Homo sapiens: one gene and its partners. The protein of the gene in region 2 interacts with the protein of the main gene of each other region in a pairwise test. Each region holds a gene or a part of one and is shown on either strand. Other genes may lie near its edges.

Region 1 (7,555 bases), on a different chromosome or scaffold from region 2:
AGCCATGTTCGTCTTGCACACTCTTCCATCCATAGTGCCCAGCACTAACAGACTACTTGACAATATTAAAGAAATCATGAAATCATAACTTCACAAACTCTTGTTGTCATCAGGCCATCTGGGGTGATCTAAATGACTAGGAACAGGACCATAGGGTAGGACATGATATGGAGGGACAGGACCACCCAACCCTGGCCCCCAGCCCAAACTACTCTGGCGTGGAAATGCTTTATTCCTAGGATGAGAGTAGAGGGAAAAGACGGAGGGGTTCCCAGGTGGTGTAAGTGCTTCCTAAGGACTGCCCTCTGGGGTCTTGGGGTATTGCAGGCTTCTCACACCCCACCACCCATGGGGCCAACCGCTCGGCCAGCCACACTGTCCTCAGAGTGTTCCCAGCAAGGTCAGCAGAGACCCAGCAGGTGGAGGAAATAATGGGAGAAAAGAGTTGAAGGTGGGAGTGGGGAATGGGTTCACAATGCATTTGTTCAGGGATCTTTACTCATTCTGTGATGAAGAGAAGGTGACAGTTCACTGGCTCCCTGGGGGTCTAGGAGACTTGGGCTTGGCTGAAGAGGGACAGACACTCAGGGCAGGGCTCCATGCCATCAGCTTATCAGACAGCCACCTTTCTCCTTGAAGGGATTCTTGTCCTCAGGGATGCCTTTGAGAAAAGGATCGTTTCCTGCTTGGGCCTCCACGTACTCCTTGATTTCCTTTCCCGCTTTGGAAATCTGCGAGAACACAAAAAATGTTTTAGGTCCTTGTTACTGTCTCTGGGTCCATGATTTGGTCAGTGCCAGAAAAACAGGCTTCTGGGCAGGGCAGAGACAGGGGCCAAAGAGGAGAAAGACACAGAGGACAGACAGGTGTTCGGGGGTGTGAGTTCCTTGATCTGACCCACAACACTGACCCTGACCTTCATGGGCTGCTTGGCCAGAGCCAGCCCAGACACAGGGCTGGACACGCTGAGCTCTCCAAGGCCCTGAAGCTCTCTCCTGTGCTCAGGGAGGCTGGCACCTTCACAGGGTCAACCCCAGCCTTTCTCTGCATCCTACCCCATCCCAGAGGTACCTCCTGCTGCTTCTGCAGCCCTGGAACAGTCCCACCACCCTTTCTGGTCACTTCCTCCTTCCCGGGGCTCATCAGGAACAGGAAGGGAAGAGCAGGGACGGGGCGAGGAGGCTCACCGGAATTCTTGTGTTTTTCACTTCTTTCTTCAGCTGCTCCACCTCCATCTTCAACAGGTCCTTCTCGCTGAGATCCTGGGCCATCCTGCCCTAGACAGACCTGATCCTGGAAAGGATTCAGCAGCCAGGATCATAAATCTCATCAGCTCTTCCAGCTCCCTCCACACCTCGACTTCTAGCATCTTCCCTGCCATATCCCTCAGTTCAGGCCCCTCATCATTCAACAGATATTCACTCCATCCTTGCATGCCCTGCTTCTTCAAGAGTCTGGGCTCAGGAGGGGAGGAAGCTCCCAGTCTGATGGGGGAGGCACCATTTTTGCCTTTGGATTGTCTGTCTATGGAGGAAATTTGGATTGTCTGTCTATAGAGGCATCTGTCTGTCTGTCTACAGAGGAAACAGAGAAGAAAGAAAAAGGAGTTTCTTTCAGAGAGGAAGATCTGGGAAGCAACGTTATTGTTTCATATAGTGACTCAGAGTTTTCCTCTTTCTCTCCAGGTCCAGCAAGGGAGAGTATACAATAATGGTCAAGAGAAGGGGGTCTTGGCTGGGCGCGGTGGCTCACCCCTATAATCCCAGCACTTTGGGAGGCCAAAGTGGGAGGATCGCTTGAGCCCAGGAGTTCAAGATCAGCCTGGCCAACATGGCGAAACCTCGTCTCTACAAAAGATAGAAAAATTAGCCGGGGTGATGGTGAGTGCCTATAATCCCAGCTACTCGGGAGGCTGAGATATGAGAATTGCTTGAACCTGGGAGGCGAAGGTTGCAGTGAGCTGAGATCATGCCACTGCACTCCAGCCTGGGTAACAGAGAACAACTGTTTCAAAAAATAAAAAAAGATCCCAGGCACTGTGGCTCATGCCTGTAATCCCAGCACTTTGGGAGGCTGAGACAGGCAGATCACCTGAGGTTGAGGGTTCGAGACTAGCCTCGCCAACATGGTGAAACCCCATCTCTACTAAAAATACAAAAATTAGGCAGGCGTGGTGGCGGGCACCTGTAATCCCAGCTACTCAGCGGGCTGAGGCAGGAGAATCACTTGAACCCAGAAGACGGAGGTTGCAGTGAGCCGAGATCACACCACTGCACTCCAGCTTAGGCGACAAGAGTGAGACTCCATCTCAAAAAAAAAAAAAAGAGAGAGAGAGAGACAAGGGGGTCTGGAGCTTACCAGACTCCAACTCTGATCTGCTGCTTCCTTACTGCTTTCTCAGTGTGGCCTTAGGGAAGTCACTCAACCTCTTTGAGTATTAGTTTCCCCAGCTGCAAATGGGTATTAAAAAAACCTACCACATGCAATTATTGTGGGTACTAAGAAAATAATGTCTATAAAATATTATAATATACTACCTGGCACATAATGAACACTTAATACACTTATTATTATCACTAATAATGCTATTGTTATTATTATCACTGCAGGGTTATCAGGAAGGCCTTCCTGGTGCCTAGCCCCAGTGATACTAAGAGTAGATCCCAGCCCAGTGCAACCTCAGCCCCTCTCACCTGCCACAGAAGAGCACACTCTCCAAGTCACTTGTCCTGGACTCAGGTAAGATAGTGTTTGAGCCTCCTAGTTCTTCATCAGCTGAAAATCTTCAGATAAAGCAGATGGCCTGGAAACCAAAATCTCTGATGCCTAAGCTGATCATAGGCTCAAAGTTCTAAGCCCATCACCCGCTTGAGCCTTCAAGCCCTCACTACAGCAGAGCAGAGAGACAGACATTCTCCCCACAAAAACAAACGCGAAAACAGAAGCCACCTTTTCACCACCTTGCCTTGCGTTAGCCTCACACTTTTGGTGACCTCACTAGCTTAGAGCCCGCAGCGCTTCTATTTCTCCACCTCCACCCTGCAGCCCCACTTACCCCGCTTCGCCTGCTTTCTCCTCCTTCCCTTCCCACCTCTGAGCATGCTCTGAGGCTGTCCTTCCTCCTGAGGCAAGTCCTAGACCGGCCCCTAACCTCCTTAACCAAGATGCTTTGTGTTGCCCATTGGATCCCCACAGTTTCACCTTACGAAGTTCTCCTAGCTCACTCTTCATCCACTCATTCAATAAAAATGTCCTTGCTCACCAAGCTGTGCCACTTAGTACTTGGGGCGTGGCCACCTCTAATGCCTCTGTTCAAGCTTCTTTGCTGCCATGCCTCCCTCTGAGCCCTGAATGTGGGTTCCTGAGCACAGAACCCACATCCTGGTTTTTTTCTTGCTGTCCCCCCAGGACCACCCAAGGGCTATGCCATTTAACAGACATTGAGCTCCTGCTCTGGTTGACACCCATCCAATGACAAGGGACCCGCTGGAGGAGCAAAAGTTAAGGGACCAATATGGTCAATGGGAGGTCCTCTTATTCTCCTGTCTCTAGGATGACAGGCTTGGTGGTGGGAGGGGCAGAGAGGAGGCCCGCCGTCCATCCTAACTTCCGTGCTCCAGGACCCAGTCCAACTCTCAGCTGGGAGCTCTAAGAATTTGAAATCAGAACAGGATCCTGGAGGTTGTCTGGTACAACTGTCCTGTTAATGCGTGAACCACAGCCCATACCTCCTAGGCAGGCTCAGTGCTCTGTCCACCGCTGCTTCCTAAAACCGCAAGTTGATCTGAAATTTGAACCTGGTGCTTCTCAAATCCAAGTCCTTCCTGTTGTCTAATCTGAGTCCCTCACATTACGCTTGGTCAATTTCATCTTGTCCTGCCTTCATCTGCACAGAGCGTGTAGGGCAGATCTTCATCACACACAACCCTTCGCAGGCTTGCTAACACCCCTCTGGCAACCTCTCTGGTCATGTCTTCCCGGTGTCCAACCCTGACCCCTCTTGCTGCCGCATCGGCTGTTTTCTATTTTTGCTGTGCTGCTGCCCCACAGTCCTCTGGTATGACGGATCTCCATATCCTATCCACCCTCCACTCCCCTGTCCCTTGGTGACTCATCCCTGAGCTTCCCAAGGAAGCCCCCACCCTCTGCCCTTTCCTCCCGCCTTCCATGAGTGGAAAATCCACCTCCGCCCCCTATAGCAGGCCAGCCCCCTTCCTCCCCAGTCTCCGACCCCATCCCCCAGCCGACCAGTTTCCTCTCCAGGACCAGGGAGCAATCACAGCTGCCCCGACCTTGGCTTCCTCTGCTGGGTGGGATTGGGGGCTGGGCCCCCAAATGGGCCCCTGGCTTCCCCCTTCCTCTGGGCAGGGGACAGAGAGACACAGGCTCGGGGAGCAGGACTGACTTCCTCTTGTCCCGGAATGAGCATGCCTGCCCTTTGCAAGCAGGTTTGGGTCTCACGCAGAGGAAACCAAAAGCAATAAGAGGGAGGGAAGGCAGAGCAACCAATCAAGGGCAGGGTGAGACTCAAAACGAGCGGGCTCCCTGGGGAGCCAGACAGAGGCTGGGGGTGATGGCGGAGCTACAGCAGCTGCAGGAGTTTGAGATCCCCACTGGCCGGGAGGCTCTGAGGGGCAACCACAGTGCCCTGCTGCGGGTCGCTGACTACTGCGAGGACAACTATGTGCAGGTAGGTAGAGCGGGCGGAAGCCTGACACCCCAGCCCCCGGAGGGGGGACCCTGAGCCCTGCCCCAAGTGGGGCCCTGGGACCCATCCTGACAGTGCTTGTCCTGGGCCTTGGCTGAGAAATCCTCCCATTCCAGGCTTCGGCTTCATCCCAGACCCCAATACTTAACCCTGACCCCATACTACCCAAGCCCCCACTGTGCCCCTTCTGTCTCTCAGAGCCTCAGAGATGCCTGGGACAGACAGTGCGATTCCATCCTGTTCTCAGGTGTCACCTCAGGTTCATCCTTCTGAGTTCCCACGGGTCAATCCAGAGACCCAAAGCCTCCGTCCTCACACAGATGCTGGCGATCATTCTATTTCCAGGCCGGCTCTGGGTGAGGCTTCAGAAGAACTTCCCAAACAGCACAGTGAACCTGAGATGGACAAGGGAAAGGGGCTCTTTCCCTGAGTTTGGGAAAGGGAGAGTGGGGATAAGGCAGAGTAGGCTGGGCTAAAGAGAGGGGATCTCATGCAGAGGCAGGGGGATGGCCCACATAACTGCTGGGAGCAGGCTTCTAGCAACAGATAGGGAGGTGGCATTGTAGAACAGGTTTTAAATTGTGTGGTTGTCCTGGGGCTGAGAACATAGATTCCTGGATTCAGGGAGGAGAGGCAAGGCAACTGAGCCATGATGGAAATCACTTCTGTTATTTCATTAATCTGTACAACTACCTTGTGAGACATGTATTATAATTCCTATTTTACAGATGTGGAAACAGTAGCTCAGGGAGGTGAGGTGACTTGTCTAAGGCCACACAGCTCCAAACAGCAGAGCCAGGCATTCCTTTTTTTTCGCTCTTGTTGTCCAGGCTGGAGTGCAATGGCTCGATCTTGGCTCACTACAACCTCCGCCTTCCGGGTTCAAGAAATTCTCCTGCCTCAGCCTCCTGAGTAGCTGGAATTACAGGCATGCACCACCATGCCCGACTAATTTTATATTTTTAGTAGAGACAGGGTTTCGCCATGTTGGTAAGGCTGGTCTCGAACTCCTGACACCTCAGGTGATCCACCCGCCTTGGCCTCCCAAAGTTCTGGGATTACAGGAGTGAGCCACTGTGCCCAGCCAGCCTTTTTTTTTTTTTGACGGGGTCTCCTCTGTCACCCAGGCTGGAGTGCTGTGGCATGATCATAGCTCACGTAGCTTCACTGAAGCCTTGAACTCCTAGGTTCAAGCAATCCTCCCACCTCAGCCTTCTGAGTAGCTGGGGCTACAGGTGCATGCCACCATGCCTGGCTAATTTTTTAAATTTTTTTGTAAAGACAGGGTCTCCATATGTAGCCCAGGCTGGTCTTGAACTCCTGGCCTCAAGTGATCTGCCCACCTTGGCCTCCCAAAGTGCTGGGATTACAGGCATAAGCCACCACATTTGGGCTTCCCTGAATCCTGATGCCAAGCTCTTTCCTCTCCATCTTTCTGCCTCCCTACACGCTATGTGACTTTACGACAGTTTATTAGCACTCTCTGTCCCCGGTTTCCTCTGCTCCCTGAAGAGCTGCAGACTAACCTTGTTACCCCTTGGGCAAAACTTTATTTTTCTAACCTGTACTAACCAAACTATGAGAACAGGCACAGGGACCTTGTAGCATAGTAAGAATGTTGAAAAAAGAAGTAAATGAGTAACAAGTGCTCATGGGAAATGGCAGATTAAAGACAGTCAGTAATGACAGCAGTTAAAATGCTCTGGACCCTTCTTTTGGGCCAGGCATGTTACCAGCATGGCCTCCCTTCATCCTCATCTGAAGTCCGGTGAGGCGAGTCCCATGCCCACTTCACAGTGAGGAAGCTGAGGTTTGGAAAGGTTAAGTCACTTTCCCAGAAGTCTCCTAGCTAGTGTCAGAGCCTGAATTCAAACGCAGAAATCTGATTCCAGAGCCCACTCCCTATGCCACTAACTGAAAATGCTACTCTGGGTATCATTTCGGTCTGTGTAGATGTTGAGTGACCACCTGCAGATGAGACAGAATGAGGCTTGCAAACCAGCTCATTCTCCTAGCATGGAAAGGCATGTTTCCTCTATGGACAAGGATCCAAGCAGTCCTTTCCATTCCTTCCATAACTTCTGCACACCTCAAAGAGCTTCCACAGGGCTCTCATTTGCACACACAGTGTGCACACACAATTTGGGGTCGCAAAGACCTAAGTCAAATTTCCAGTTCTGCCACCTACCAACTACAGGAACTGTGGCAAGTTTCTCCTCTGATTCTCATGCCTGCCTTCAGTGGTGGCTCCATGGATTCAATATAAAAATGTATCAAAGCATTCAGCCTAGTGCCAGCCCCTTCAGAAGAGCAGGATAAATGGCAGCTCTTACAATGACCATCACTACCATTCATTGGAAGGATGGATAATAAGAATCAGTTCTAGGGAGGAGAAGCTGTCCTTGCAAAAATATGCAGGGCATGAGAAGCCCTGACCCAAGTTGGAATCCTTGGACTCCTGCTTCCTTCGTGCAGAGTACTAACTACTAGAACACACAACTTGTTACCTTTCCTGGCCTTTCTGAGGATCTTTATCTAGGCAAATGCCTAGGAAGGTTCTGGATCTCAGAACTTCTGTTACCTAAGGCCTGATTCCCCTACCCTCCAACCCCACCTGCAGCCCCTCTCTCCCCACACCACCCAGATGCTAGGAAACCCATGGGGAATTAGGGAAGGCAGACCAGGGTCACCTGCAGAGTTCTCAGCCAGGGTTGACTGAGTTTACAGACACGGTAATTTGCATGATGAACAAGCACTCAGCCGCAGAGATGGATCTCAGACACCTGTCCCTGCGGACCTAACTTTGGGCTAAGAGCAAAGCCAGGGGTCGGTAGGTGTTCAGGCTGC
Region 2 (7,357 bases):
GACAATGTTAAGAGAATGAAAACAGAAGCCACAGACTAGCAGAAAACATCTGCGGTACACATATGTGATAAAGAACTTGTCTCTACAATATATGCGAATTCTTAAAGCTCAGCGATAGAAAAAAATGAAAATAGTCAAAGATCTGAACACACACTACACAAAAGAAGATACACACATGGCAAATAAGCATAATAAATGTACTAAGCGTGTTTTGTCATTAGATAATTGTGTACTAAAATGAGATACCACTACACACCTATTAGTATGTCCAAAATCCATAAAAAAGCAAAACAAAGCAAACAAAACCAAGACCAATTGCCAGGGAAGATGTGGAGCAACAGAAACTCTCATTCATAGCTCGTGGAAATGCAACATGGCACAGCCACTTTGGAAGACAATTTGGCGTTTTCTTAAAAAACGGAACATAGACTTAGCGTAAGATTCAGCAGCCATACTCAATCAATTTACCCAATTGATTTGAAAACTTATGTCTACATAAAAATTTGTATATGAATGTATACAATAGCTTATTTCACAATCACCAAAAATAGCAGCATCCAAAATGTATTTCATTTGGTGAATGGATTATATATATATATATATACACACATACACACACACACGCATTAAAATATGGTACACCCAATGATACTACTACTCCTCAATGAAAAGGAATAAGTTACAAGCTGCACAAAGTTTTACATGACTCTTCAGTTCATTATGCTAAACGAGTCTAAAGAAACGAGTCTAGAAAGAAACGAGTCTAAAAAGGCTACATAGTATACGAGTCTATTTATATGACATTCAGGAAAAGGCAAAATTATAAAGATGAAAAACCTATCAGTGGCAGCCAAGGGGGTTATCTGACAAGCACAGGGGATTTATCAGGGCAGTGAAACTAGTATGGTAATACTGTAATGGTGGTTCCGTGCTTGCTTTCATCTGAATATTTGTGTTCCCACAAACTTCATCTGCTGAAATACCAAGGTGATGGTATTAGGTAGAAGGTGGGGTATTTGGAGAATGACTAGTTCATGAGAGCAGAGACCTCATGAATGGGATCAGTGTTTTTATAAAATAGTCCCCACAGAGATCCCTTGCCCCTTCCTCCATGCGAGGACATAGGGAAAAGGCAGGTGTCTAGGAACTAGGGAGCAGGACTCCACCAGACATGAAATCTGCCAGCACCTTGATCTTGGACTTTCCAACCTCCAGAATGTGAGAAATAAAGTTGTGTTGTTTATAAGCCACCTAGTCTACACTATTTTTGTTATGGAAGCCCAAACGGACTAAGACAATGGCAAGAGGCATTTGTCAAAACCCATAGATCTTTACAGCACAAAGAGTGAAGCTTAATGTATGTAACGTCTAAAAGTAACTTAAGAGGTTGGAGAATCACAGAACAGAATGTAAAATGTTACACACACAGAAACCTAGCTGTATTATAGATGTATGAAACCACCACAGTGAAGCAAGTGGGGGGAAAGTTATCATATTTGGGTACTTCATCAAAGAAATATATATTTTATAAAGTATATGTCTTCCAGATAAGTTTGTAAAATAGTTGAACATTTGATAATCATTTATTTAATTTTTTAGATATCAATGCTATTGGGTTTTTGTTTAATAAAAAGTCCTTTTCCTTTAAAATGCATGTTAAATTGTTTAGAGATGAAATGGTCTAATGCCTTAGATTGGCTCCACGTTATTACAGAAGCTCATATGCAGGTAGGCAAGTGTCTAACTGGAACCAGCTTTGCTGTGTATTTAAAGTTGTTCATGCTCGGTATCAAGTATCCTGGGTTCATAATATTAGTTTCTGTTATTCTGTATGTGTGAAGGCTTTCCCTAATAAAACGTTTTTTATCACAAATATGCCATTAAAAGTGAAATCCTAAATGAAACTGACCACTTCATAGAAATAAAATACATCAGTAACCAAACTGATCCAAAAAGAAAAAGAAAACTTTAATTAAACTATACAAACTGAAACTGTACAATATTCAAAGCTCAAGCCACCCTCAAACATTCCAGGTTAGGCAGTTTTGGAGGCCAATTCTACCAAATGATCAGGGAAAACTAACCACCATCTTATATCAACTCTTCCAAAACATACAAAAGATTGACAATTGTTCAGTTCATTCTCCCAGACTAGCCCTCCTGGATTCAAAATCAGATGAGGACCACATCCCTCCCCGATGGAAAAAGAACACACCAAGTAAGCTCCCTTACCTAGCAGTAAATACCTTACCTAAATTAGTAGCATATTAAACAAATAGACAGGCTCTGCCCAAGGAAATAACATATGATTTAACATCAGAAAAAAAAAAACGGTTTCATTGTAATTCCTTACATACAAAATGGAGGAGAAAAAATTTGATCCTGTCAAAGGGTACAGAAAAAGCTTTTTAAAGACATTTAATGAGTTTATGGAAAAAAGAAAATATTTATTTAACCTATATTCAAAGAGCACTTCCATTTCCTAAAATCAACAGCAAACATACTTAAATGTCAAATGTTCGAAGAACTATCATTCCAGTCAGGAACGAGAAGTAGATGTAGCCTATTATCTCTACGTTTGAAATCAGGATTGAGACACAAAAAGCTATAAGTATCAAAATGAGTAAGTGGTATGAATATTGGAAAAACATGTAATGTTTAGTGATAATACCATTATCGATCTTGAAAATTCAAAGGAAAAGGCATGTGGAATATTCAAGTGCATCGGCCTTCAGAATGAGGTGTGCAACAGATTACTACAGCAAAATCAAAATCTTCACCTCACGAAAGCAATAACTAACTACAGCAATTAATAGACAATATGCCATTTGCAATAGCAATAAAATCCAAGAATTACCTGAATAGAAGTCTAATAAAAATGTATAAGCTGCTTATAGAGGCAACTATCGAAGTATACTGACATATTCAGGAAAAAATAGCTTGACATACATAGAGGAGTATAACATATTCATTCATGGGGAACACAACAGTGTAAAAATGTAAACTCAGCTTAAATTATTTACAATTTAGTGCCTTACCTGTAGTCGCCGACATTACAAGCAAATTTGGGCTGCTGTGCTCTGCTTCCCAAATCAACCCTGTAAATTTATAGAATGGAAACAGAAAGTAAAAAACCAGTATTAGCAAGAAAATCTACACAACAAAACAGGGCCAGTCCAGGGTGAGACTGAAGACCTTGTTGAGCTGGTACTTGTGTGTGACACTTGCCGTGTCGGTTAGAGGGGGTTAGCGGCAGGGATGTTGGGGAGGTTTGTAGCCTGCCTAGACGGCAGATAACAGAATGGGTAGAATAAAAGTTTTAAAATTTCCACTTCACTTCATTGCACAATCTGAGGCAGCTCCTGAAAACACGATGCCAAGAGCCCTAGGTAATAGCAGGACACCAGGAAAATTGGGTTTGTTAAGGCAGCATGGCTCCAGAGTTCTGCTAATAACAACCTGAAACCAACATAGTGGGAGAGGAATTACGTTTAAAAAAAAATTCCTTCAACAGAACACAAAGACTGGAATAGAAGTAGATTAGGATAGTAAGAGTGAACGATGCATACTAAGGGTAGGTGTTAGTTCGTAGAAATAAATATATATATCGCTACCTACATATATACTTGGAAGATATGTAAACCGTATTTCTTCAATTCAGTGAATAAATCATTTAGGACCAAAGGTTTGCCAAGTGTAGCTCTGGCTGGAGAGGAGCTCCCGTGGGAAAGTGTCTGTCTTCTTCCAGAGGTCAATACGATCGTGGGAGCTCCCGCCCTGCAGGGAGCTCCTGGCCTGGGACCCGCAGCCATTCTCTACAAGGGGTGCAGCTGTGCAAATGCACAGACGTTACAGAAACAGAGTATCTCCTGCCAATCACTTCATCCAACAGCCAGGAGTGAGGAAGAGGACCCTCTTGAGTGAGGACTGAGGGTCCACCCTCCCCCACGTAGTGGGACCACAGAATCCAGCTCAGTCCCTCTTGTCAGCCCTGGTAAACTTAGGCAATAATGTCACCCCGACCACACCCCTCCCCCAGTGCCACTTCAGGGGGACTCAGAGTCAGAGACTTGGTCTGAGGGGAGCAGACACAATCGGCAGAGGATGGCGGTCCAGGCTCAGCCTGGCATCCAAGTCAGGACCTTGAGGGATGACCAAAGGCCCCTCCCACCCCCAACTCCCCCAACCCCACCAGGATCTACAGCCTCAGGATCCCCGTCCCTATCCCTACCCCTACCCCCAACACCATCTTCATGCTTACCTCCACCTCCATCTGGATCCCCATCCAGGAAGAATCCAGTTCCACCCCTGCTGTGAACCCAGGGAAGTCACGGGGCCGGATGTGACGCCACTGACTTGCGCGTTGGAGGTCAGAGAACAGCGAGATTCTCGCCCTGAGCAACGGCCTGACGTCGGTGGAGGGAAGCAGGCGCAGGCTCCGTGAGGAGGCAAGGTAAGATGCCGAGGGAGGACTGAGGCGGGCCTCACCCCAGACAGAGGGCCCCCAATAATCCAGCGCTGCCTCTGCTGCCGGGCCTGGACCACCCTGCAGGGGAAGACTTCTCAGGCTGAGTCGCCACCACCTCACCCCGCCACCCCCCGCCGCTTTAACCGCAGGGAACTCTGGTGTAAGAGCTTTGTGTGACCAGGGCAGGGCTGGTTAGAAGTGCTCAGGGCCCAGACTCAGCCAGGAATCAAGGTCAGGACCCCAAGAGGGGACTGAGGGTAACCCCCCGCACCCCCACCACCATTCCCATCCCCCAACACCAACCCCACCCCCATCCCCCAACACCAAACCCACCACCATCGCTCAAACATCAACGGGACCCCCAAACCCCGATTCCCATCCCCACCCATCCTGGCAGAATCGGAGCTTTGCCCCTGCAATCAACCCACGGAAGCTCCGGGAATGGCGGCCAAGCACGCGGATCCTGACGTTCACATCTGTGGCTCAGGGAGGGAAGGGGGTCGGTATCGTGAGTACGGCCTTTGGGAAGCAGAGGATGGGCCCAAGCCCCTCCTGGAAGATAATGGAGTCCGGAGGGCTCCCAGCATGCCAGGACAGGGGCCCAAAGTACCCCTGTCTCAAACTGAGCCACCTTTTCATTCGGCCGCGGGAATCCTAGGGATACAGACCCACTTCAGCAGGGAGTTGGAGCCCAGCCCTGCGAGGAGTCAAGGGGAGGAAGAAGAGGGAGGACTGAGGGGACCTTGGAGTCCAGATCAGTGGCAACCTTGGGCTGGGGGATCCTGGGCACAGTGGCCTAATGTGCCCCATGCTCATTGCGACTTCAGGGTGACAGATTTGCGGGCTGTGGTCTGAGGAGTGGCACTTCAGGTCAGCAGAGGGAGGAATCCCAGGATCTGCCGGACCCAAGGTGTGCCCCCTTCATGAGGACTGGGGATACCCCCGGCCCAGAAAGAAGGGATGCCACAGAGTCTGGCTGTCCCTTATTCTTAGCTCTAAGGGAACCCGATCAGAGATAGCTCCAATTGGCAATGTCATTTGTACCACAGGCAAGAGGTTGGGGAACCCTCAGGGAGATAAGGTGTTGGTGTAAAGAGGAGCTGTCTGCTCATTTCAGGGGGTTGGGGGTTGAGGAAGGGCAGTCCCTGGCAGGAGTAAAGATGAGTAACCCACAGGAGGCCATCAGAAGCCTCACCCTAGAACCAAAGGGGTCAGCCCTGGACAACCTACCTGGGAGTGACAGGATGTGGCTCCTCCTCACTTCTGTTTCCAGATCTCAGGGAGTTGAGGACCTTTTCTTCAGAGGGTGACTCAGGTCAACACAGGGGCCCCCATGTAGTCGACAGACACAGTGGTCCTAAGATCTACCAAGCATCCAGGTGAGAAGCCTGAGGTAGGATTGAGGGTACCCCTGGGCCAGAACGCTGACAGAGGGCCCCACAGAAATCTGCCCTGCCCCTGCTATTCCCTCAGAGAGCCTGGGCAAGGCTACCTGCTGAGGTCCCTCCATTATCCTGGGATCTTTGATGTCAGGGAAAGGGAGGCCTTGGTCTGAAGGGGCTGCACTCAGGTCAGTAGAGGGAGGCTCTCAGGCCCTAGCAGGAGTAGTGGTGAGGACCAAGCAGGCTCGTCACCCAGGACACCTGGACTCCAATGAATTTGGACATCTCTCATTGTCCTTTGTGGGAGGATCTGGTTATGTATGGCCAGATGTTGGTCCCCTCATGTCCTTCTGTACCGTATCAGGGATGTGAATTCTTGCCATGAGAGTTTCTTTGGCCAGCAAAAGGGCGGTATTAGGCCCTGCAAGGAGAAAGGTGAGGGCCCTGAGTGAGCACAGAAGGGACCCTCCACCCCAGTAGAGTGGGGACCTCACAGAGTCTGGCCGACCCTCCTGACAATTTTGGGAATCTGTGGCTGTACTTGCAGTCTGCACCCTGAGGCCCATGGATTCCTCTCCCAGGAATCAGGAGTTCCAAGAACAAGGCAGTGAGGCCTTGGTCTGAGGCAGTGTCCTGAGGTCACAGAGCAGAGGGGGTGCAGACAGTGCCAACACTGAAGGTTTGCCTTGAATGCACACCAAGGGCCGCACCGGCCCCAGAACACATGGGACTCCAGAGCGCCTGGCCTCACCCTCCCTACTGTCATTCCTTCAGCCTCAGCATGTGCTGGCCGGCTGTACCCTGAGGCGCCCTCTCACTTGTTCCTTCAGGTTCTGAGGAGACAGGCCCCGGAGCAGCACTAGCTCCTGCCCACACTCCTACCTGCTGCCCTGACCAGAGTCATCATGCCACTTGAGCAGAGGAGTCAGCACTGCAAGCCTGAGGAAGGCCTTGAGGCCCAAGGAGAGGCCCTGGGCTTGGTGGGTGCGCAGGCTCCTGCTACTGAGGAGCAGGAGACTGCCTCCTCCTCCTCTACTCTAGTGGAAGTCACCCTGCGGGAGGTGCCTGCTGCCGAGTCACCAAGTCCTCCCCACAGTCCTCAGGGAGCCTCCACCCTCCCCACTACCATCAACTATACTCTCTGGAGTCAATCCGATGAGGGCTCCAGCAACGAAGAACAGGAAGGGCCAAGCACCTTTCCTGACCTGGAGACGAGCTTCCAAGTAGCACTCAGTAGGAAGATGGCTGAGTTGGTTCATTTTCTGCTCCTCAAGTATCGAGCCAGGGAGCCATTCACAAAGGCAGAAATGCTGGGGAGTGTCATCAGAAATTTCCAGGACTTCTTTCCTGTGATCTTCAGCAAAGCCTCCGAGTACTTGCAGCTGGTCTTTGGCATCGAGGTGGTGGAAGTGGTCCGCATCGGCCACTTGTACATCCTTGTCACCTGCCTGGGCCTCTCCTACGATGGCCTGCTGGGCGACAATCAGATCGTGCCCAAGACAGGCCT
Region 3 (7,000 bases), on a different chromosome or scaffold from region 2:
CATGTTGCCCACCCTGCTTCAGCCTCCCAAAGTGCTGGGATTACAGGCATGAGCCTGTTTGGTTCCTTCGTTCATTCTTTCTTTCTTTCTTTCTGTCTTTCTGTCTTTTTTTTTTTTTTTTTTGGTGATAGAGTCTTGCTTTGTTGCCCAGGCTGGAGTTCAGTGGCACAATCACTGCTTTCTGCTGCCTCAGCCTGCTGAGTAGCTGAGACTACAGTCTCATGCCACCGTGCCCAGCTAATGTTTTGTATTTTTTTAGAGATGTGGTTTTGCCATGTTACCCAGGCTGGTCTGAAACTCTTGGGCTCAAGCGATCCACCCTCCTCAGCCTCCTAAAGTGCTAGGATTACAGATGTGAGCCACCGGTCCCAGCCTTTTTTTGTAATTTATATATTTATTTTTGAGACAGAGTTTTGCTCTTGTTGCCCAGGCTGGAGTGCGATGGCGTGATCTCGGCTCATTGCAACCTCTGCCTCCCGGCTTCAAGCAATTCTGCCTGAGCCTCCGGAGTAGCTGGGATTACAGGCACGAACCACCACACCTGGCTAATTTTGTATGTTTACTAGAGACGGGGTTTCACCATGTTGACCAGGCTGATCACAAACTCCATGTAGTTTAAATTGAAAGAAACCGGATCAGGTTTTACCATCTTACTGTTTTTTCATTCTTCTTTGTTCTGCTGTAATAGAGTGAGGAATTATTAGTTAGATACAATTTAAGGGTTTTTGAGAGCTTTACAAGGATGGAGTTAGTTGGATTTTATGTTAGGATTATAGGAGTGGCACAAAGACAACTTCCTATTGTATGCATGAGGTATATGTATTGTAGGCATTGCTCCTCTACCTTCTATTGTGTTTTACTCCATGTACAGCCAACTAACTGAGCTATAGAGTATCATAACTTGGCCCTTTAATTTTCTTTTTGAAGGTTGTAGCTTCTAGTCCCTAGAGCTTCTGTAATTAGGTGGTCATAAAAATGCACATAGGGCCAAGGTCACAGAGAAATCTTGATTGTGGCCTTCAAGCAGATTGACTTTATTATTGACTTTATTTAATGTCATTTTAGTGAGATTTTTGTTTGCTTGTTAATTCGTTTATGAAGAATGACCAACTGTGTTTACAGGCAGATGAAGGGAAGGGTAGGGAGGTGTGGGACTTGGGAAAGGATAGTTGTACATTGGATGACTAAAAGGCTTTATCTCAGCTGGGCACAGTGGCTCACGCCTGTAATCCCAGCACTTTGGGAGGCCGAGGTAGGTGGATCACCTGAGGTCAGGAGTTCGAGACCAGCCTGGCCAACACGGTGAAACCCCGTCTCTACTAAAAATCCGAAAATTAGCTGGGCATGGTGCTGCACACCTGTAATCCCAGCTACTCAGGAGGCTGAGGCAGGAGAATTGCTTGAACCCAGGAGGCGGAAGTTGCAGTGAGCTGAGATCACGCCACTGCACTCCATCCTGGGCGACAGACTCCATCTCAAAAAAATGAAAAAATAAATAAGTAAATAAATAAAATAAAAAAATAGACTTTATCTCATCATAAAAACTTTTTAATCTAATTTCTCTTTTTTCTAGCTTCAGGCTCCTGGCAAAGGCCTAACTAGCAATAAAAGCAAGGATGACCTGGTGGTAGCTGAAGTAGAAATTAATGATGTGCCTCTCACATGTAGGAACTTGCTGACTCGAGGACAGACTCAAGACGAGGTGAGGAGGCATTGAGACTCTTTGGGGAGGGCGGTGAGTGGATTCAGATAAAGAAGACCTCTAAATAGACAGGCGTCAGATATTTATTAGTGGGTTTGGGTCATAGTCTCTAAAGTCAGGATTGGGTTTAATTTAACTTCAGAGGAAGATAATGGAATGGATATAAATGAATTCTCTGGGTTGGTTTGAGTAAGAAACCATGGAATCAAAATTTCAGATACAGGAGAGAATTCTTTCCTTCTTTACTTGGTTGAATGAATGAATGGGAAGAAAATCTGTCTGCCATTGAAATCAACCAATTGCCACATTTTTTTAATTGAACATTTCCTTTTTTAGATCAGCCGACTTAGTGGGGCTGCAGTATCAACTCGAGGGAGGTTCATGACAACTGAGGAAAAAGCCAAAGTGGGACCAGGGTGCGTATTCTCTTATCTTGTTTATGGAAGGGTTGGGTGTATGACTCACGTTAGCCTCATGTTTTTTATCCTTAGGTAATACGTGTACACAATATTTGATTCAAGGTTTGAGGGGTATGTGTGTGCACACTATAGCAGAATTCTGGATATCAAACAGATACAAGATGTTGGGACCTGTTTTTGGACTTTTATTTCACATTTAATGTTTTTATTGGAGGAAACAAATTATAGGAAAGTGTAAAAGAAGATACTAACCACTAACATTTAATGTATATACTCTTTTTTCTTCTTTCTGTTCCATATGATCTGCAGAAATAATGTATATACTTTTTTTTTTTTTTTTTGAGATGGAGTCTTGCTCTGTCGCCCAGGCTATAGTGCAGTGGCGTGATCTCGGCTCACTTCAAACTCTGCCTCCTGGGTTCATGCCATTCTCCTACCTCAGCCTCCCGAGTAGCTGGGACTACAGGCACCTGCCACCACGCCTGGCTAATTTTTTGTATTTTTAGTAGAGACAGAGCTTCACCGTGTTAGCCAGGATGGTCTTGATCTCCTGACCTTGTGATCCACCCCCCTCGGCCTCCCAAAGTGCTGGGATTACAGGCGTGAGCCACCACGCCCGGCATTGTATATACTTCTTAACTTTTTTCTGTGGAAATAGTTCCCCTCACAAATGGGCTCTTTTTTTTTTTTTTTTTTTTTGTCTTTATGATGGTTATAGTTTGTGATTATTCAGGTAAAGACTTAATCTGTTTCATTTTATTCCTTCCATCATTCCGTGTTTGAGTTTCTCTTCACTGTCAGTTGATAGGTACTTAGGGAATGCAACATTTTTAACATTAGCTTAAACTACACAAAATAAGGTGGCAAAATTTAATTCCTACCCCAAGCCAAGAATTTATTTATTTATTTATTTATTAGAGAAGGAGTTTTTGCTCTTGTTGCCCAGGCTGGAGTGCAATGGCGCCATCTCGGCTCACTGCAACCTCTGCCTCCTGGGTTCAAGCAATTCTCTGGCCTCACCCTCCCGAGTAGCTGGGATTACAAGCATGCGCCACCACACCCGGCTAAATTTTGTATTTTTAGTAGAGATGGGGTTTCACGATGTTGGACAGGCTGGTCTCAAAAGTCCTGACCTCGGGTGGTTCCCCTGCCTCGGCCTCCCAAAGTGCTGGGATTACAGGCATGAGCCACCGTGCCCAGCCCCAAGAATGTATTTAAACTTTCTATATGTGTTGATTGCTGTTTTGAACTTTGTCTTTAAAAAGTTATTTTTACCTGCTACTTTTTATTAACTATATATGGTTATTGATCACTTTATTATAATTTAAGTCCTCTTCACATTTAGAATCTAAATTATCAGTTGATGTAGACCTTAAGAGGTTTCTCTATATGCATGATCAATCTTTCCCCATTAATTTTGTGTGTGTGTGTGTGTGTGTGTGTGTGTGTGTGTGTGTGTGGTTTTTTTTTTTTTTTTTTTTTTTTTTTTGGAGACAGAGTCTTGTTCTGTTGCCCCGGCTGGTGTGCAATGGCATGATCTTGGGTCATTGCAACCTCCACCTCCTGGGTTCAAGTGATTCTTGTGCCTCAGCCTCCTGAGTAGCTGGGACTACAGGCGTGCCACCATGCCCGGCTAATTTTTGTAATTTCAGTAGAGATGGGGTTTTGCCATGTTGGCCAGGCTGGTCTCAAACTCTTGGCCTCATGTCATCCACCCACCTCAGCCTCCCAAAGTGCTGGGATTACAGACATGAGCCACAGCACCCAGCTTGCCCCATTGATTTGGATAGACGAGACCACATTTGTTTATAACCTATTAGACAACCAGCAAAAAGGAATTCTGTTCTTAAATATTGGGTTATCTCAATAGACTGGAAAATAATGGTAGTGAATCCATAAGAACAGATTTGATCTGAACTCTGTGGGCCAGTTGACTTTTAAAATCAAGAAGTTTATTTGTTCCCCAGCTGTTAAAGCATGTTCTGAGACATTAGCTAGCAAAAACCCTTCTAATGTATATAGTCCCTTTTGGTTATTTGGAAACTTGAAACATTACAAATTAGATCTGGTGACCCATTTGACTCCTTTTTTGGTTTTGACCACATTGAGATCATCCTTTTTTGTTTCTCTTTATAGGGATCGTCCATTATATCTTCATGTTCAGGGCCAGACACGGGAATTAGTGGACAGTAAGTAATGTTTTTGGCTCACGTAGCACTTTTTGTGAAGAGCAAAGTACAGGGCTCTGTATAGCAAGTTGGCAAAGTGTCCCTGATGGCTGTTCTAACCCTTGTTCATGAACTATACACGAATTTGTATGGGAGTTTAGAGGGATGGAGAGCCACATATTTGGGTAACGTATAAAGCAGATTTACGGTGAATAATTGAACACTGGCCTGCCTGGGCACTAGTCAGTTCATTCCATTCAGTTTTACTGTCTGTGTTTTTCTAAGGAGCTGTAAACCGGATCAAAGAAATTATCACCAATGGAGTGGTAAAAGCTGCCACAGGAACAAGTCCAACTTTTAATGGTGCAACAGTAACTGTCTATCACCAGCCAGCACCCATCGCTCAGTTGTCTCCAGCTGTTAGCCAGAAGCCTCCCTTCCAGTCAGGGGTATGTTTTGGGGAGGGATCGTTAATAGCATTATCATTTCTATAAAAATGATATGTGCTGGCCAGGCACAGTGGCTCATTCCTGTAATCCCAGCACTTTGGGAGGCCAAGGTGGGTGGATCATTTGAGGTCAGGAATTTGGACCAGCCTGACCAACGTGGTGAAACCCCGTCACGAACATTACCCGGGCATGGTGGCAGGCACCTGTAACCCCAGCTACTTGGGAGGCTGAGGCAGGAGAATTGCTTGAAGCCGGGAGGTGGAGGTTGCAGGGAGCTGAGACCATGCCACTGCACTCCAGCCTGGGCCACAGAGCAAGACTCCATCTCAAAAAAAAAAAAAAAAAAAAAAGTGCCAAGTAATACATACAAAGAAAAAAAAATCGTGAAATTCCAAATTCCAATCCCGAAAGTTACCTGCCATAGGTATTCTGTTTGTGTGTTATCCAGCTCTCCACGGTATAATGAACACCTGATCACACATTTCTTCATATTGATATATTCTAGAAAGGAGATTGATAGAGCAGAAGGTATACATGTTGTACATTTTGAAGTTAGTGGTTTTAATTTGTATTTGTAAACTTGATGACAACTGGAGGACTAAGAAGGCTGAGTCTGATGAAGTAAGACTTTGCTGATACATTCCTCCTAGAAAAAAGGGTTGGAGAGAGCAGCCTTCACTGAAGAGTATCACAGGGCTGACTGTACTACCCAACACTCTACCCCAGTTTTACAGGAGACTGTCTTTGCTATAATTTCTTATTGACTTATTTCAAAGATTGAGGATTTAATTATATATTCTGTTTAATCTGAAGTATTCTGTTCTTCCTACAGATGCATTATGTTCAAGATAAATTATTTGTGGGTCTAGAACATGCTGTACCCACTTTTAATGTCAAGGAGAAGGTGGAAGGTCCAGGCTGCTCCTATTTGCAGCACATTCAGATTGAAACAGGTGCCAAAGTCTTCCTGCGGGGCAAAGGTTCAGGCTGCATTGAGCCAGCATCTGGCCGAGAAGCTTTTGAACCTATGTATATTTACATCAGGTATGGATGGATAGGGCAGGGGACATGTGAATTCTTGTCAACTTGTTGGTACAGTCAGGAGTGATTCAGAAGGAGCAAGAGAAAACTGGGTGTAATTAATAGTAATGAGGGATTTAGATAAATGCTAGGAGTAATTACTTTATAATTAGTTAAAGAAATTGTAGAATTGGGGCACGGTGGCTCATGCCTGTAATCCCAACACTTCTGGAGGCCAAGGCGTAGGACCACTTGAGCCCAGGAGTTTGAGGCCAGCCTGGGCAACATAGCAAAACCCCATCTCTCCAAAAAAATTTTAAAAATTAGGCGGGCACGGTGGCTCACACCTGTAATCCCAGCACTTTGGGAGGCCGAGGCGGGTGGATCACGAGGTCAGGAGATCGAGACCATCCTGGCTAACAAGGTGAAACCCCGTCTCTACTAAAAATAAAACAAAAAAAATTAGCCGGGTGTGGTGGCAGGCGCCTGTAGTCCCAGCTACTCAGGAGGCTGAGGCAGGAGAATGGCGTGAACCCGGGAGGTGGAGCTTGCAGTGAGCTGAGATTGCGCCACTGCACTCCAGCCTGGGTGACAGAGCGAGACTCCATCTCAAAAAAAAAAAAAAATTAGCCAGGTGTTATGGTGTACACCTTAATCCCAGCTGCTCAGTAGGCTGAGGCAGGAGGATGGCTTGAGCCCAGGAGATTAAGGCTGCAGGTAGCTGTGTTTGCACCACTGCACTCCAGACTGGGTGACTGAGTGAGACCCTGTCTTAAAAAAAAAACCAGGTGCGGTGGCTCACACCTGTAATCCCAGCACTTTGGGAGGCCGAGGCAGGCGGATCACTTGAGGTCAGGAGTTCGAGACTACCCTGGCCAACATGGTGAAACCCTGACTCTCCTAAAAGTATAAAAATTAGCCAGGTGTGGTGGCAGGCACCTATAATCCCAGCTATTCAGCAGGCTGAGGTAGGAGAATTGCTTGAACCCTGGAGGCGGAGGTTGCAGTGAGCTGAGACTGCTCCATTGCACTCCAGCCTGGGCAACAGAGCAAGACTCCATCTCAAAAAAAAAAAAAAAAAGAGAAATTATTGAATTAGGAGACGGAATTATCTCTTTAGTATTCAAGTCCTTTGGTTTTGTACAAGTCTGTACAAAAGTGAATCTTGGCCTGTAATCCCAGCACTTTCAGGGCCGAGGCGGATGAATCAGGTCAGGAGATTGAGACCATCCTGGCTAATAC
Region 4 (7,348 bases), on a different chromosome or scaffold from region 2:
CTCATCACTCCAAGTTAGCTGTTAGCAAAAGCATCTTACATAACGTGGCTCAAATACCTTGTGATTTTTTTTCCAAGACTCCTTGGTCCATGCTTTAACACAGAGCAGTAATAAATGGGGATGTCCACTAGCATCTTCAGGCTGGTTCAGGACTGTCTGGACCCCATAAAAGGGCCTTACTGAAGCCAGGAGACTTCAGATTTGAGATATGGTTCAAGAGTGTCCTTGAGTTATTCAACTAATAGGAGACCAAAGCTGTGTCTACATTAGCTGGAATCATGAGGCCCTTTCATTCAATTTCCTGTAATACTTTGTTATGAGTCATCATTCTCCTGAGATTCCAATCTCACCACGTAAGTATTTAAAGCATAACTCCAATGATCCTTTTATTTGCTACCTACATAACATCTGTACAATCTACTAAACAGGTATTTACAGTACTGAACACTTAGTTGGCCTTAGAGAGAATTAAAAATTGAAATACCTGCCCTGAAAAAGCTATTTATGCATTTAACAAATATTTATTCAGTTTTTCTTACTAAGTTCTAAGCTATGCAAAGGTAAAGAAACCAGATCTGTCCTTGCCCTCATATAAATTACAGCCTAGTGTTGATTCCTACCAGAAAGTTGAAAGTAGTAAGTGCTATGACCAAGGACAGCTGAGTCCTATGAAAGCACAGATTCAAGAGGGTCAACGAAGGCTTCCTGGAGACTAATAAGTTAAAGCTGTGGCATCTGACCAGCTAACTACTAGCCACATGTGACTATTTAAATTAATTTAAAAATTGGCCAGGTGCAGTGGCTCATGCCTGTAATCCCAACACTTCGGGAGGCCGAGATGGGCAGATCACTTCAGGTCAGGAGTTCGAGACCACCCTGGCCAATATGGTGAAACCCCACAGCAAAAATTAACAGGGTGTGGTAGCAGGCGCCTGTAATCCCAGCTGCTCGAGAGGCTCAGGCAGAACAATCGCTTGAACCTGGGAGGCAGAGATTGCAGTGAGGAGAGATCAGGCCACTGCACTGCAGCCTGGGTGACAGAGCAGAGCGAGACTCCGTCTCAAAAAAAAAAAACAAAAACAAAAAAAAGAGAGAGAGAAAAGGAAAAGAAAAAAAATATTAAAATTTCAGTGCTTCCACTGCTCTAGCCCCATTCAAGTGGTCAAAAGCTATATGTGGCTAGTGCTACCATATTGGGTAATGCAAAAAGAACATGTTTCTGGTCTCCGAAAGCTCTTCTAAACAGCACTGAAGGAAAACAGTGCAGCTCACTCTCCAGATGAGAAAACAATATACAAATGCCTGAAACAAGACACAAATAAAGGTTAACACACTAAAGCAAGCCTATAGCTCCATAGTTCATTATAAATAATTAACAAGGGAGCAGTAAGCCTAAAAGTAACCAGAGTTTGAGGTTTGAACAGGGAGAAAGAGTGAAGTTGATTTTATATAATCTAAAGATCACTAGTTTCAAACACGTGTCAAAATTGGAGTTGTCATAAGCTATGAGAGACAACATAGGTCACTTTTTTAAAAGCCCTTGCTGGTGGGACTGTATGTGGTAAACACAAAATGTCTGAAATGAATCCTACAAATAGAATACCATGGGCTAAATCTTCTACAAAACAGAAGTAAACACATTCCATGCATGGCTAGACTCAATCTTACAGTCCAGATAGACCGTATCAAATGAAAGCATTTAAAAAATGCATCATATTTACGAAAGCAAAATAAGCTGGAACCAGGATGGTTCTCCAACATAAAAACGCAGACCAACTAGACTCCAGCAGGTTCAAGTCTCTGCTTTCCTCCCCAGTTGCTCAATGCCCCGCACCACGTGATCCTGTGCTGTTTAGACGACTCACTTTAAATTGTGCACAAGATTCACAAACAACAAACGTCAAAGTGAAAGTGAAGTACAATTTAAGTGCTGGCGGATGTTCCTGAGGAAGGTGTTTACTGAAACCTTTCAAAGGCGCCCGTTTTATACGATGATGGTGCTACAATATGAACGCAGTCTAGTATCTCAGAACATACAGCAAGTTATTGTCCCATAGGAACATCATCCTCTGATACGTATCAAAACACTGTCTCAGCACAGAGCTGAAAACCAGAGTCTGGATGACGTGAACAGCCTGACATCTAATTCAAAGCTCTACCATCATAAGCAGTGAATGGGATCCTTAAGGATGCGGGCTCAGCTCCAGCGCTCCTTTCAACTTCCCCTCCCAGGTGCGGATGGTTCAGAATTAAGGGATCTCAGGTAGCCAAGGACTGCAAGGACAGCCATTTGGTTTAGCTTTGAAGACCCACTGGCCAAAGGTTTCTCGACAATTTAATGCGCAAGGGGAGTCAAGTGAGAAATGGGAAGAGGCCGCGTTGGAAAGCCACTGCGCGTGCGGGGACTCTCGGGGCAGCCGCGGCTGGCGGTCGTGGCCCAGAGCCCAGCTCCGCCGCCGGGTCCCGCACACCCCGCGCCCCTCAACCTAAAGTTGGGCCGTCCGTCAGCGGCCGCCACGAGGAGTCCCCATCCCCGCCGGGTGGGCCGCTCCGCCCCGAGAAGGCCTCCCCGCGGCCAGCGACACCGGTGCCCACGGGAGGCGGCCGCGGGGCTTCCACAGCCCCCAGCGCCTCTGCGCGACCCTCCCGGGGCCACTGACCTCCCCGCGGGCCCCCAGGGCCGCCCACCCCGGCCCCAACCCCGCCGCCGGCCAGCCCGCGGCCCGGGGGGGCCCCGCGCGCCCCCGGCCCACCTGCCTCCTCCGGGTCCTCTCGGAGCGGCCGGCTGGGGACGCGGGGGCGCGGAGGAAAGGCCGAGAGGCGCGCTCCCGCCGGCGCTGTCTCCCGTGGCCGCCCACGGAGCCTCCCGCCGCGCCGCTCCACACCTCTCCGGGCCCCTCCCGCTGCCTCCCACGCGGGGTGGGCGCGCGCGCAGTGCAGGCGGCCGGGCGGCGCGCAGGCCTCGGCCACGGCCCCGCGCACGCGCTGGGGACTCGGTGGGGACGGAGGAGGCAGCGCGCGCCTGCGCTGGCTCGCCTGGCTCCCGCGCCCCCGCACTCCCCAGCAGTCAGATGATCGGGCGCACGCGGGGCCGCGACCCCGGCTGACAGCGTCTGCGGGGTGTCGCAGTGTTACCTCCCCCGCCGCGAAGCCAGGCGGCCCCGGCACGCCGTGCGTGCCCACCGCCTTCACAGCCCTCAGCCTCGCGGCCTCACGTCTCTAACCTGCGGCGCCCCCACCAGCTGCTGGGGCCGGGGACCTAGTCTTACCCGTCTTGGGCTCCCCAGAGTCCAGCCGAGCGTGGTCAAGAGTACATCCACCAGTTCCCTGCTGGCAGCGCTTGCTGTAAAAGGCCTAATCCGTGCTACACCCACGTTGAGCAATTAGTTCATATCTCCTGCGGCTTTGCTGCCTCTTCACCCACGTTTTCTCCTGACCCCTTCTCCGTCTCCCAAGGACCAGACAGGGTGAAACTGTGCACCTAAAGTCGTGAACTCTGACAGCCTGACTCTCTGTCATCTGGTAACAAGAAAGCGTTACTGGACACATAGTGAGTCCCCTTAATGAGGAGACCTAGTAAGACCATGACCGAAGTTTGAAACATGGAGACAACAGTGTTACATCTATCAGCTGTCTCTGAGGCCTACAGCGGCTGCTTCATAGAGGCTGTACTTCTGTGTTCAGCGCGCACAGTGCCTGGCAGGAACAGATGTTGAATGAACGTCTGTCAGTGTCTCTGCAAGAGCAGAGGTAAGCGCTCACCGCACCCCGGAGCATCTTTTCCTGTTAGAATCATTGATTTCAGGGACTGGAAAAAGCCCCCTTCCCACTTGCCTGAATCCTCCTTACAGTGTCTTCCCACCAAGCAGTGGTTGAACACCTCCACTAACAAGGAACTCATTACCTTTTAAGGCAGCCATTTAATCTTTGATCAGCCTTTTGGAAATTTTCTACCTTAGGAGCTAAAATCCAGCTCCCTGCATCTCTCCCTCACTGGATTTTGTTTCTGCCCTGGGGACTCTTAAGTCTGACTCCAATTCATCCAAGACACACATTACCTGTCCCTTAGGCTACTCCTGATATGACCTGGTCACAATCCCACTCACCAGCATGTTGAGGGATTCTCTTGGATGCATTCCAGCTTGTCCAGAGCTCTCTTAAATGTGATTATCAGGAATGAGTGGGTGGCCTGCCAAGTGCGGAGAGGAAAGAGACTGCCACCTCTTCTTAGGTCCTATGCTTAACAACATTCACCATATCAAAATAGTTGCTAGGAGCAGTCACATCACATTGTTGAATCGGGTGGAGCACACTTGACTAAAACCCACAATATTTGAATACATGACCATCCCTGACCCTGGTCAGCTGCCAGTTTCTCTGTCTCTGCAGGCTCAGCATCTGCGAGTGCTCTCAGAGATAATGTGACACGGATACTTCCTCCTCCCTCTGAAGAGTCCACCTCCCTTTCCCTGCTTTCATCATACCCTCTTCTTGTCTGACCCACCCATCTCTTTAGCTGGTTAAAAGAAGGAAGGCAATCTGCCCTTGGTTGGCTTCAAGCACCTATAAATGAGGCCAATTGTCATTGAACCACAGAAAGTCATAAAGATCTGTGTGTAACAGAGTAGCTATTGGTGAAGTTTCCAAACGTATACAGTTCACTTTTATTGCTGATTTAAATTATCCATCTGAAATACCACTATTAGTAGGTGACAAGGCATGGCTAGCTCAGTTGTTCTTAGTTATAATAAAGATCTCTGTTAGAACCAGCCAGGCCACTGGCTTTATCTGCTACACCCAAACACTGTATGATACATAGGCAAATTCCCAGGATACCAAGCCACCAGAGTCTCCCACTCACTTAGTTGCCTTTGTTCAAAAATCTGACGTTACTTCTTTATACCATCATCAAGAATGCAAGTGCTCGTTGGAGTCATGCTTCCTAGAATACCTCGTGACATACAAGCTTTAGAACCAGGTATTGCCCAGTTAACCAGAGTGAGACTGGACAATGATATGTGGCCAGAACTTGGAACTTGAACTATTCATTGGGGTGGGAAGGCACATGGGGATGTGGACCAACTGTAGCTGCTGAGATTCAATTCTATCTGGAGACACAAAGTTCCTGAAAAGTATAGCAATAATCCACAGCGTCAGGAGGTGATCAACTTACTGGTCAACATCACAGTGTGGAGAAAGGGCATTACTCACTGACCACTGTAAGGCACTTGACCTATGGAAATCTTGTCTTCACTTTACAAATGAAGAAGCAGACTCTGGGAGGCTGCGTGACTTGCTCCATGTAGCCAGGGGCAGAAATAAGATTCAAACCTAAGTCTGTCTGATCTGAAGGCCTATGTTGATTCACTACTTTGCTAACCTACACAGGCTGTCTTTGGGGGCATTAAAGACCCAGAATGGCTGCATAGAGCAGCATTCAGGAATTCAGACACTCGGCAGCAGGAAGATCTGTCAGCAGCTCTCAGGACCCCGACCATGATAAAAGGGTTAGAGGAAATAGCAAAAGAAGACAAGGTCACTGCTTTTACATGGACTGGATATGGGATGGAATATCATCAGTTTCTAATTTGTGAGTGTATAGGGGGCCTAGGCCCTTAGGACCATGAGAGACACCCAACTGTCAGAATTGGGGCACCAGATTGGAGTTCAACTAGCAGAAGTGCTTAAATGCAAAAGATCAGAGCACTGGGCAGAGCCCCTAATATCTTCCTGTCTGTGATGTTTACAGGTGTGATCATCAGCATAAAAAGCCCAACAGAATCAACAAAGTATTAGAAGTAATGTTAGCTCAGCAAGGTTGCCAAGTACAAGATCAGTTTCTAAAAATCAATAGTTTTGTCTACATCAGCAGTAAGCAACTGGGAAATGTAACAGACAATAAGAAACCATTCACAATAACAATAAAGTTTAACAAACTCTAAAGCATAATATCCAGGAATTAACCCAACAACTTGCAAAAACTTTAAGGAGAAAATTTTAAAACTCTATTTAAGGACATAAAATATTGAATAAGTGGAGAGATACAGCATGGATAGGATGACTTTACATTGTAAAAGTATCCATTTAGTCTCCAAAGTAAATGTTATGGCAACCAAAATTCCAGCAGAAACTAAATTTTTAGGGAACTCAACAAACTTACAAAATATATAAGGAGAAATAAATTTTAAACAGTTAAGTCAATTATAAAAACCAGAGCAGACCTGCCATGCCAGATATTATGTCATTGCCACATAGTAATAAAAATATTATGGTACTGGTATAGGAACACATAGAGCAAATAGGAAACAGAATGAAGAACTCAGGAGCAGACCCACGTATAAATGCTACCTCCATTTACACAAAGGTGGTACCACAGATCAATGAGAAAAATATAAATTATTTAGAAGACGGCATTCGGGAAACTGGCTTTAATTTATCAAGGAAAAATAAAGTTGAGAGCCCCATGTTCTGCCATATACAAAGGTGAACTCCAGATAAATGGCAGACCTACATATGATACAAAAGAAAATGCAGGAGACTATCTCTATAATGTGGGTTAGGAATTTACTTCATAAAACAGGTTTGCAAAAGCACAATCCTTGAAGCAAAAAAAAATTGTATGACTTGACTGCATCACAATTAAGGGTTCTGTTCAGTTAAGAATACCATAGAAAAAATTAACAGATGGCTGACAAATTGGAAGAAAACATGTGCTATGTTCAAAAGCAACTAGGGATTAATATCTGAAATGCATGAGGAACTTTTCACAAATCAAAAGGAAGTCAATATAAAATATTTTAAAGGCCAATATAAAAATGAGAAAAGTATAAGAATAGACAATTCACAGAAGGAAAAGCCAGAATGGCAAGCAAGCATTAAAGAGATGCTCAACCCCACTTGTAATCAGAGTGGGAATATAAAGAGTGTGACCCCATAGCCACCAATATGCTGGTCTATGTTTTAAAACCCGCTCCCCAGGGAAGGAAAAGTCCTAACGTACAGTGTTTGCCAATTTCCATGGTGCAAATACTCTGAGCACTGCCAGTTTCCAGCTACCAGTGTAGCTTGAGGTCACTGAACAAGAAGTTGGGAAGAAATGTGCTTTATCAGCTCTCATGAACTGTTTTCAACACACCACTGCTTCACCCACCAGCATGGCAGAAATCAGAAAGATAATCCCAAATATTGGCAAAGATCTGGGGAAAGATGCACTGCTGATGGAAATTTAAACTGGTAAATATATTCTGCAGATCAACCTGGCAGTGCTTAGTGAAAAAAATTAGCAGTATGCTTTATGACTCAGCAGTCACCCTCCTGGATATGCCTCAGAGAAACCCTTACAGTGGTT

What was found.
Region 1: the proteins of MAGEA12 (region 2) and ABI3 interact in binary tests that used the Homo sapiens proteins (3 or more experiments, as listed by UniProt).
Region 3: the proteins of MAGEA12 (region 2) and KHDC4 interact in binary tests that used the Homo sapiens proteins (3 or more experiments, as listed by UniProt).
Region 4: the proteins of MAGEA12 (region 2) and CLIP4 interact in binary tests that used the Homo sapiens proteins (3 or more experiments, as listed by UniProt).

Annotation. Positions count from the first base shown.
Region 1 is NC_000017.11:49,206,152-49,213,706, forward strand, and holds the start of ABI3 (ABI gene family member 3), read left to right. Parts: upstream 1-4,555; 5' UTR 4,556-4,573; coding exon 4,574-4,690; intron 4,691-7,555. Other genes in the region: GNGT2 (guanine nucleotide-binding protein G(I)/G(S)/G(O) subunit gamma-T2), read right to left, coding at 606-731, 1,188-1,271. UniProt on the Homo sapiens protein: May inhibit tumor metastasis. In vitro, reduces cell motility.
Region 2 is NC_000023.11:152,729,407-152,736,763, forward strand, and holds the start of MAGEA12 (melanoma-associated antigen 12), read left to right. Parts: upstream 1-4,350; 5' UTR 4,351-4,453; intron 4,454-4,455; exon of another isoform or gene 4,456-4,628; intron 4,629-5,741; 5' UTR 5,742-5,847; intron 5,848-6,680; 5' UTR 6,681-6,755; coding exon 6,756-7,357. Other genes in the region: CSAG1 (chondrosarcoma-associated gene 1 protein), read right to left, coding at 3,039-3,054. UniProt on the Homo sapiens protein: Not known, though may play a role tumor transformation or progression. In vitro promotes cell viability in melanoma cell lines.
Region 3 is NC_000001.11:155,924,414-155,931,413, reverse strand, and holds part of KHDC4 (KH homology domain-containing protein 4), read left to right. Parts: intron 1-1,573; coding exon 1,574-1,702; intron 1,703-2,038; coding exon 2,039-2,118; intron 2,119-4,257; coding exon 4,258-4,310; intron 4,311-4,574; coding exon 4,575-4,738; intron 4,739-5,327; exon of another isoform or gene 5,328-5,456; intron 5,457-5,570; coding exon 5,571-5,782; intron 5,783-7,000.
Region 4 is NC_000002.12:29,111,071-29,118,418, reverse strand, and holds the start of CLIP4 (CAP-Gly domain-containing linker protein 4), read right to left. Parts: upstream 3,005-7,348; 5' UTR 2,754-3,004; intron 264-2,753; exon of another isoform or gene 58-263; intron 1-57.